Regions from separate parts of the Homo sapiens genome. Here all the other regions are linked to region 3. The links come from fine-mapping of genetic effects on plasma protein levels. Region 3 holds a variant in brackets. A gene starts in each other region. All regions are shown on their reverse strands.

Evidence for each region. PIP is the posterior inclusion probability: the model's chance that the variant is causal. Protein levels are from antibody-based Olink assays in UK Biobank. Linkage for the fine-mapping came from a reference panel and not from the study's own genotypes, which makes the PIPs less certain.
Region 1: it holds the start of CCL11, and the variant in region 3 is fine-mapped to the plasma level of the CCL11 protein (UK Biobank, PIP above 0.99).
Region 2: CCL17 starts here. The variant in region 3 is fine-mapped to the plasma level of the CCL17 protein (UK Biobank, PIP above 0.99).

What each region holds. Positions count from the first base shown.
Region 1 is chr17:34,284,295-34,286,794 of GRCh38, reverse strand. It overlaps CCL11 (C-C motif chemokine ligand 11), which reads right to left and starts at 1,053. Exons shown (of 3, transcript NM_002986.3): 1 at 911-1,053. The coding sequence starts at 986.
Region 2 is chr16:57,402,873-57,405,721 of GRCh38, reverse strand. It overlaps CCL17 (C-C motif chemokine ligand 17), which reads right to left and starts at 955. Exons shown (of 4, transcript NM_002987.3): 1 at 886-955.
Region 3 is chr1:159,203,815-159,206,665 of GRCh38, reverse strand. ACKR1 (atypical chemokine receptor 1 (Duffy blood group)) reads right to left here and starts at 1,791. Exons shown (of 2, transcript NM_002036.4): 1 at 1,686-1,791; 2 at 166-1,205. The coding sequence starts at 1,706. The coding sequence ends at 216. The variant C/T (reference allele first, on the strand shown) is at 1,102.

The DNA.
Region 1 (2,500 bases), not on the chromosome of region 3:
GTAATTTTCACCAAATATTCTCCATCCTCTGTTTTGAGACACAAGGTAGACTTGCATTTCTTGGCCACTTTTGTTTGGTTGGAGGCATTAATTAGTTTTGATCAATAAAGAAGGAGACAAAGTGATGGGTGTCATTTTTGAGCCACAGTGCATTGCCTATGCAAGACTCCTGAGAGCTTTCTTCTGCTTTATCACAGTATCCATCAATGTTCCCCCACATGGGCAACTTCTCCATCAGTCTAGAATCCTGAGTATAAAATGCAGAAGCCTGAGCCCATACATTATAGATATTTAGTACAAGTGAGAAAGTAACTTTTGTTAATTTAGTTAATTCTGTTAAGTCATTGATAATTTAGAACTGTTTGTTACCATGCTATGCACTGGCTCAGTGGGACCGATACACTCAGTAAATTTGTCACCAGAGTATGGGAAAATGAGTTATGGAACAAATCTCCTAGATAACTTTCCCAAAGAGTGTCAAAATAAGTCACCTCAAGAGATCCCCCTGGGACCTCGTTCTTCTCTTAGCCACTGTCTCTGAAAGCTGTCCTGGAGTCGAATTAACATACTGAGCTTCTAATCAACAGATTTTCCTTCTCTCCCACTGCCAAAAATGCCCACCATGCCCACAGTAAGACAGAGCCATTCCCCATTCCCAAACACTGTAAGGATAGCTGGGTATGGATGCACCCAGCAACCCTCTTGAATGTGGGGAAAAGACTCGGGAGCTTTCTAGTTCTGGCTCTTCCAGTGACTGGATGTGAGGTTGAGGCATTTCTTGTCCACCCACAAAACCTGTTTCCCTATTTTTCAAATGGAGAATTTGCAGTGAGTCTGTAAAGATTCTTGCTGACCTAGTAGCTCTGGAGGTGGTTACCTTACCTTTCCTGTAAGGAGTTGGGGGGCTTACCTGGCCCAGCGAGCCCCTGGGGGCTGAAGGCAGCTGCTATGAGCAGCAGCCACAGAAGTGCTGCGGAGACCTTCATGTTGGAGGCTGAAGGTGTGAGCTTTGGCGTGAGAGGTGGTGGTTTCTGGGTTGGTCTCAGCCTCTCTGCTCCTCTGGCCCATCTGCCTGCCTTTTATAGGGAGCAGACAGTGTGGGAGATTCCAGGGAAGCCTTTGCCCATGCGGGGGTCACGATGAAGGGATTCCTGATTGCTGACCAGATTCCAGATCCTAGGAAGTCAAGCAGAACAGAAGAGAGGCAAGCTAGTAGGAGGGACTTGGTACATTTTTTAATCCATCTGGATCTTGCCTTGGAAAAGGAGGGGAATATGTGGTTATGAAATGAAGTTAAACATCTGTAGTGGGGGAAGAGAGCAAGAAAACCAAGGCCCTAGGGGATGAGTTGAAATGAAACACCTGTAGTTGGGGAAAGGAGCAAGGAAACCAAAGGCCTGGGGGATGAGTCGATCTAAGAACCTTCCTTGATTCCTGTGTTCACATGGTGGTCTTGAGGATTTTGGAGACCAGGAAGGAGCCCCAAAACTTCCATTAGGCTCCCACCCAGATGCAGAGAGAGCTCAGCAGCCCTGCACATAGTTGCATCTCTGAACCAGGAAGGACAACACACCACAGCTTTGCTGCTGTGTTTCAATGTAATGATCACAGAATCTTAGTCCCTGAAATTTTAGCATGATAGGACATCAGAACTGGATAGTTTCTATTAATCTTGACTTCTGAGGCACTTTAAAACCATTTGCTTAGCTGCTAAAGCCCTTTTCCAAATGGAATTAAAACAAACCCCAACTCATCAAATACACTGTAGTGAAGGGGATTTGTTTGAAATAGAATAGGCAGCCTCTCGTGCCCTTATTCCCCAGGGAACACATTTAGGGAACACATTTGGAAAATCAATCATCTAGTTCCCCCCTCACTCTCTGAGCACACATTGCAGACAAGGTATCTGATGGCTAAAAATATCAAAGAGAGAGGCAACACAAGAACCTATACATATCCCTTTGTTCATAACACTAGGCACCCTAGTTGGAGAGGGTATAAGGGAGGCAAAGTCTTTAATGGAGTCACTGCAGCGGATTACAGCATTGAATACTGGTGTGGAGGTACTGCAAACCTGTTTCCTGTTTTTTCCTGCACACTCTCATATCAAATTGATTGATTGGTACAGTAGCACAAACAAGAATGTTAAAGATTCTGAGGAGTTGACTTGCGTTAGTTAAATACTGTGTTGTGGTTGACTGGTGATGTCTGTCATGGGCACAGGATTAGAGACAGCTCTTGCTGTCCTGCAAAGTCTCTAAGTGCCCATCTAGGATAATTGGTCTATAATTACCTAAAAAGTTAACTATAATTACCAAATAGAGGCCAAAAATGTGGAGTCTTCCCTGTTCTTTCCTGCTCCATTCCTGGTGGGTTAGTCTAATGTAGAACCTGAATTCAGGATATCTGCATTTGGATGATGGCTCTGTGACTGACTAGCTGTGATACCATGGACAACTTACTTAACCACTCTCTGCTAGGGTAAGAGCAGGATACTAAT
Region 2 (2,849 bases), not on the chromosome of region 3:
GCCCTGACCAGTAACTAATCAGACACACCCACCTGGACACTCCTCCTTCCGGCCCATCTTTCTGTGGCACCCCTCAGCTCTCTCTGCCTTGCAGCCTGGCCAGCTCTGTGCAGTTCTGTCCCCCACACTAACCTGTGAGCTGCTGGGAAGCAGAAGTCTGTCCTGCTATGGTTCACTCAGCCCCAGGTACCAGAAGGGCAAAACCGAGTTCCCTCTCACACCAGCCTCCTTTTTTTCTGTTCAAGCCAGCATTGTTTCCCATCTCCCCATCTGCCCCCAAGTCTGAAACTTTGCCCTTGACTCATTCCTCGCCTCCATCCCCCACATTACATCAGGCAGAGACTCTGCCCAGCGCTGTCTTCAGTGGGAGCTTGGCTTCCTTGCTTCCTTCTCATCTCCACTGGCTCAGCCCTCATCCTTCACACCCAGAGAGTCTCAAAAACTTCTGGGCCTATTTCTTCCTCTCTGGTCTCTCCTGACACCTCCCTCATCAGCTGCATGCCCACATGTGGTGGATCTTTCACAAGGGCTGCCCTGACCATGTAATGCCCCCTTCCTCCAAAACCGTCAATGGCTCCCTGCTTCCTTCCCCATCCAGTCAAAACTTTTCAGGCCAATCTTGAAGCTGTACCTTCCATCTAGCCCCTCCTTCCTATTCAGTCTCATCTCCCTGCTCCCCAACATTGAGCTTTCTTGAGGGCCAGTGCGTCCCCTCACTTTGTGACTTGGTTTGCTGCTTCCAAACTCCTGTCCCCTTCTTGTATGGATTATCTTCCCTTGATCCAAAGTCCATCCACCGCTCATCTAACACATGCCCTGAAAGATCCAGCGAGGGGGTCACCTCACAGTGGAGGGGTTAGGAGCAAAGACTCTAGGTCAGGTCACCTGGTTTTGAATTCAGCTCTCCCATCAGCAGGCGGTGACACTGTGAGCTCAAAGTCACTTCTCTCTGAGCCTCAGTTTCTACAGCTGCAAAATGAAAATAATAACAATAATTACATTAGAAGGCTTTGGTTTGCATCAACTGCCTTACTGCTTATATCTGGCAAATAGTACACGTTTCTGACTTTAAATATCATCTATATGCCAACCACTCCCAAGTTTCTCTCGCAAACTCCAGCCTCCTTCTACGTCCAGCTGCCTACTCGCCATACCAAATAGGCAGCTCCAACCCCCCAAGTCTGAAGCTGAATTTCTGATTCCCACCCACCCCTACACCTGCTCTCTCCTCCTTCTCTGCCAGCCCCTTCCTTCCGGTTACTAGGGCCAGAAACCTGGGCGCTATCCCTGACGCCTCTTCCTCTCGCCCCCAACTTCCCATCTGTTGGGTGAGCTCATGTCTCTGCTTTCCAAATACACCCAGAAACCAGCATCAATCCCTGGCTTCCTACAACTGCCTTCTGGGTGCTCTCCCTGTCTCCATCCTTGCCCCCTACAGTGTATTCTCAGCACAGCAGCAGAGGGACCATGAATCTCCCGTGTTCAGAACGTCCCCGTGGCTCTCCACCTCACGCAGAGGACAAGTCCAAGACCCTCCAGCAGCCACGAGGCCCCGCGAGTTCTGTGCCCTGCTCTCTGCCCACCTGTATCTCCTGGTTCCCTGGTTCACTCTGCCCCAGCCACCCTGGCCTCCTCCCTATGCCTCAAACCAACCAGACAGACATGCTCCTTCCTGAGGAGGTTTGCACGGACTGTTCTTTCAGCCTGGAATGTTGTCCCCAGATACCTGCAGGACTCACTCCTTCACCTTTTTCAAACTTTTTTAGGCCGGGCGTGGTGGCTCACGCCTGTAATCCCAGCACTTTGGGAGGCCGAGGCAGGTGGATCACTTGAAGTCAGGGGTTCGAGACCAGCCTGGCCAACATGGTGAAATCCCATCTCTACTAAAAATACAAAAATCAGCTGAGCGTGGTGGCAGGTGCCTGTAGTCCCAGGTACTTGGGAGGCTGAGGCAGGAGAATCACTTGAACCCAGGAGGCAGAGGTTGCAGTGAGCCAAGATCACACCACTACACTCCAGCCTGGGCAACAGAGCAAGACTCTATCTCAAAAAATATATATATATATATATTATATATATTTATAATATATATAATATATATTATAAATATATATTATATATATTATAAATATATATTATATATATTATAAATATATATTATATATATATAAAATATATATTTATAATATATATAACATATATATAATATAATATATATATTATAATATATATATTATTATATAATATATATAATATAATATATATTATAATATAATATATATATTATAATATATATTATAATATAATATATATATTATAATATATATATTATATATAATATATGTTATATATATTATAATATATATATTATATATATTATAGATAATAATATATATTATATATATTATAGATAATAATATATATTATATATATTATAGATAATAATATATATTATATATATTATAGATAATAATATATATTATATATATTATAGATAATAATATATATTATATATATTATAGATAATAATATATATTATATATATTATAGATAATAATATATATTATATATATTATAGATAATAATATATATTATATATATTATAAATATATATATGTATTTGTTTAGATTACATCTTTCAGTGAAGTCAAATTGCATGCCATCCCCATCTCTTCCTCTGCTCTTTTTTTTTTTTTTTTTTGCTGAAATGCTTATATCCTCTGACATGCTAGGCCATTCGCTTACTTATGTCTGCTGTTTACTATCTGTCTCCCACCTGTACCCCCACCCCCATCCTACTGGGATGTAAGTTGCATGGGACAGAGGTTTCTGTTTCTTTTCTTTAATGG
Region 3 (2,851 bases):
CCCCACACCTCAAGAGAACATCTGTGTACCCTGAGGGTATTTATTCATCATTCACCTTCTTCCCAAGCCAGCTATAGAAGCAGACACTGGCAAGAAAGTCTGACATAAAAATGTCTCTCTCTCCATTCTCCTTCTTCTCCCCAGACAAAATAAGAAACCACCCGCTTCACAAAGGCAGTGTAGACTTTAATTCAGGTTGACAGGTGGGAAGAGAACTAGGATTTGCTTCCAAGGGTGTCCAGATGAGAAGACCATCCTTCAGGGAGGGGCAGAGAGGGCAAGAGGGTGCGGGTGGCCTGGTGGCAGAATAGGGCGAGGAGCAGGGGCGTAGCCACACAGTGCAAAATTGCCAGGGCTTCTGCCAGGTTCAGCAGCAGGTCCAGAGCCTGCTGGGCCAGACATGTTGACAACAGCAACAGCTTGGACCTCACCAGGAAATCCAGTCCTAGAACCACCCCATGAGGCCACCAGAAAATAAACCAGGCCCACAGGATATTCATCCAGGGGCCTGGCCCCATACCCAATGCCTTCTTCAGCCCCTTGGCTCCAAACAAACCCAATGGCAACAAGACAAAGATGGCAAGACAGGCTACAGTGTGTGTGGCCTGCAAAGCCTTCAGCTCCGTGCTGTATATCAGGGTGCAGAGTCCACCAGAAGCACCACTGGCCAGGGTGACAGGCAGTGTCAGTAGGGCAGCCACTCCCCAAATTCCCACAGTGAGCCCCAGGGTGAGGCCTGGGACCTGGCCTGCACCCAGTCTGTGGCCCAGGGAGGCATGGCACCCTAGCAGCAAAGCCTGGGCAAAGGCTGAGCCATACCAGACACAGTAGCCCAGGCTACACAGGGCAGAGCTGCGAGTGCTACCTAGCCCTGGGGCCAAGACGGGCACCACAATGCTGAAGAGGGCACTGCCCACAGCCAGCTGTGCCAGGACAGGCCAGCCAGGGCAGAGCTGCCAGCGGAAGAGAGGTCTGAAAAGCATGAAGAGGACAGTGCTGCTAGCTAGGATACCCAGGACACTGGTGAGGATGAAGAAGGGCAGTGCAGAGTCATCCAGCAGGTTACAGGAGTGGCAGGGGGCAGCTGCTTCCAGGTTGGCA[C/T]CATAGTCTCCATCTGGGAAGGAATCATTCACACCATAGGAAGAATTCCATACATCTTCGAAGTCCAGCTGACTTGAGTTCTCAGTTGAGGGGGAGAGCTCCGCCTGGAGGACATACCCAGAGGAGGCCATCAGAGTTACACCGGAAGAGTCTCCTGGGAATTGAGGGGCAGGTGGGAGGGGAGGACAGAGAGGAAGGTCGGGTGGGAGAACAAGGTCTCTGCAGGAGTCAGATGCAGTGCGGACAGTGGAAAAGGACAAAGCAGGGAGCCTGAAGAGCCGGAGCAGGAACAGTCCTGGGGAAGCCAGGGCAGCTGGGGCTGGAGGAGCAGTGCAAGGTCAGAAGGAAAAGGCACCAAGAGACCAGGATGGAACTGACTCAAAGGCAAAGGGAGGGACACAAGAGGGAGCTAGGAGGCTAGCATAGGAAGGAGAGAAGGAAAAAGACTTTGAAGGAAGAGGAAAAAAGCAGGAAGGGAGAAAAGATGAGGAGGAAAAGGAAGAGATATAAAGACTGAGGGGCAAACAGCAGGGGAAATGAGGGGCATAGGGATAAGGGACTCTGGGGCCTGGCCCCATACTCACCCTGTGCAGACAGTTCCCCATGGCACCGTTTGGTTCAGGCCCGCAGACAGAAGGGCTGGGACGGCTGTCAGCGCCTGTGCTTCCAAGATAAGAGCCAAGGACTAATGAGGGCCATCAGGTTCTGGGCAGGGACAGGGGGCATCAGGAAGCCTTACCCCACGCCCACTGCCTGCACAAGCCTCAGGCCTATGGGGGTCACTGGCCTTGGGTCTTCCTGTTTTGAGGTTGGATTTGGCTGGTTGGGACTACACTCAGGAAAAAGGTGGGGACCAGAAAGTGGGCATTTTACCGAAGTGGAAAGGGAGATTGAGAAAACAGGGGGCTTTCCAGCAAGTAGAGATTTTACCGAAGTGGAAAGGGAGATTGAGAAAACAGGGGGCTTTCCAGCAAGGAGAGATTCTTCAAGCACAAGGAAGGAAGAGAGGGGGGCTGGGTGACTTGTGAGGCAGAGATAAGGGAGGTGCTGGGAAATTGGAGTGGAAGGGCGGCTGACTCTCACTGCTCCTCCATCCCCTTGAACTGGATCCAAGGAAAGGCAGTTCAAAAGCCATGTGTTTGGGAGAAAGGTGGTGGTGGTCAACTCTGTCCCAACTGAGGGGTGTGTGCACGTGGGCGTGAGCTCTTTGTGTGTACTGAACTCTGTGTACGTTTGCTGTGTATCATTGTGCACATATCTGTATGTGAGGGGCTTGGCGGGTGTCTGGGTGTGTCTAGCTATCTCTAGGTCTGGGTGTTTCAGTGTGAGAGTGGGAGGGTTGGGGTGGCTGTCGAGGCTGCATAATGAAGCCATTTCAGGGAGCTATTGGGTGTTTGCCTAGCCACCTATGGGCTCAGTGCATGCCTCTTGCATATGAAGTGGAATACATGGTCTGACAAGTTAAAGTAGGCTCTAGGGGACAATGGGACAGCATATTTTAAAATGGGACCATTGCCCACAGGGTGATTTCTATTCATATTTCTACTGGGGGACATAAAGTCTCTGGAACTGTTTCATTGGCCAGGCATCTTAGCAATATGTAAAGTTTCTCACTGAGGGGCAGAGCTGGCCAGCAGAGAGAAAGGGCATCTACCCTGCAGGCAGGCCGATTCTCCCAAGCACATTTCACTTTTTTAGTGGCTTCTTCCCCCTCCCTCCCCTCCTCAGCTGTTTCCCCAGGATCGTCACT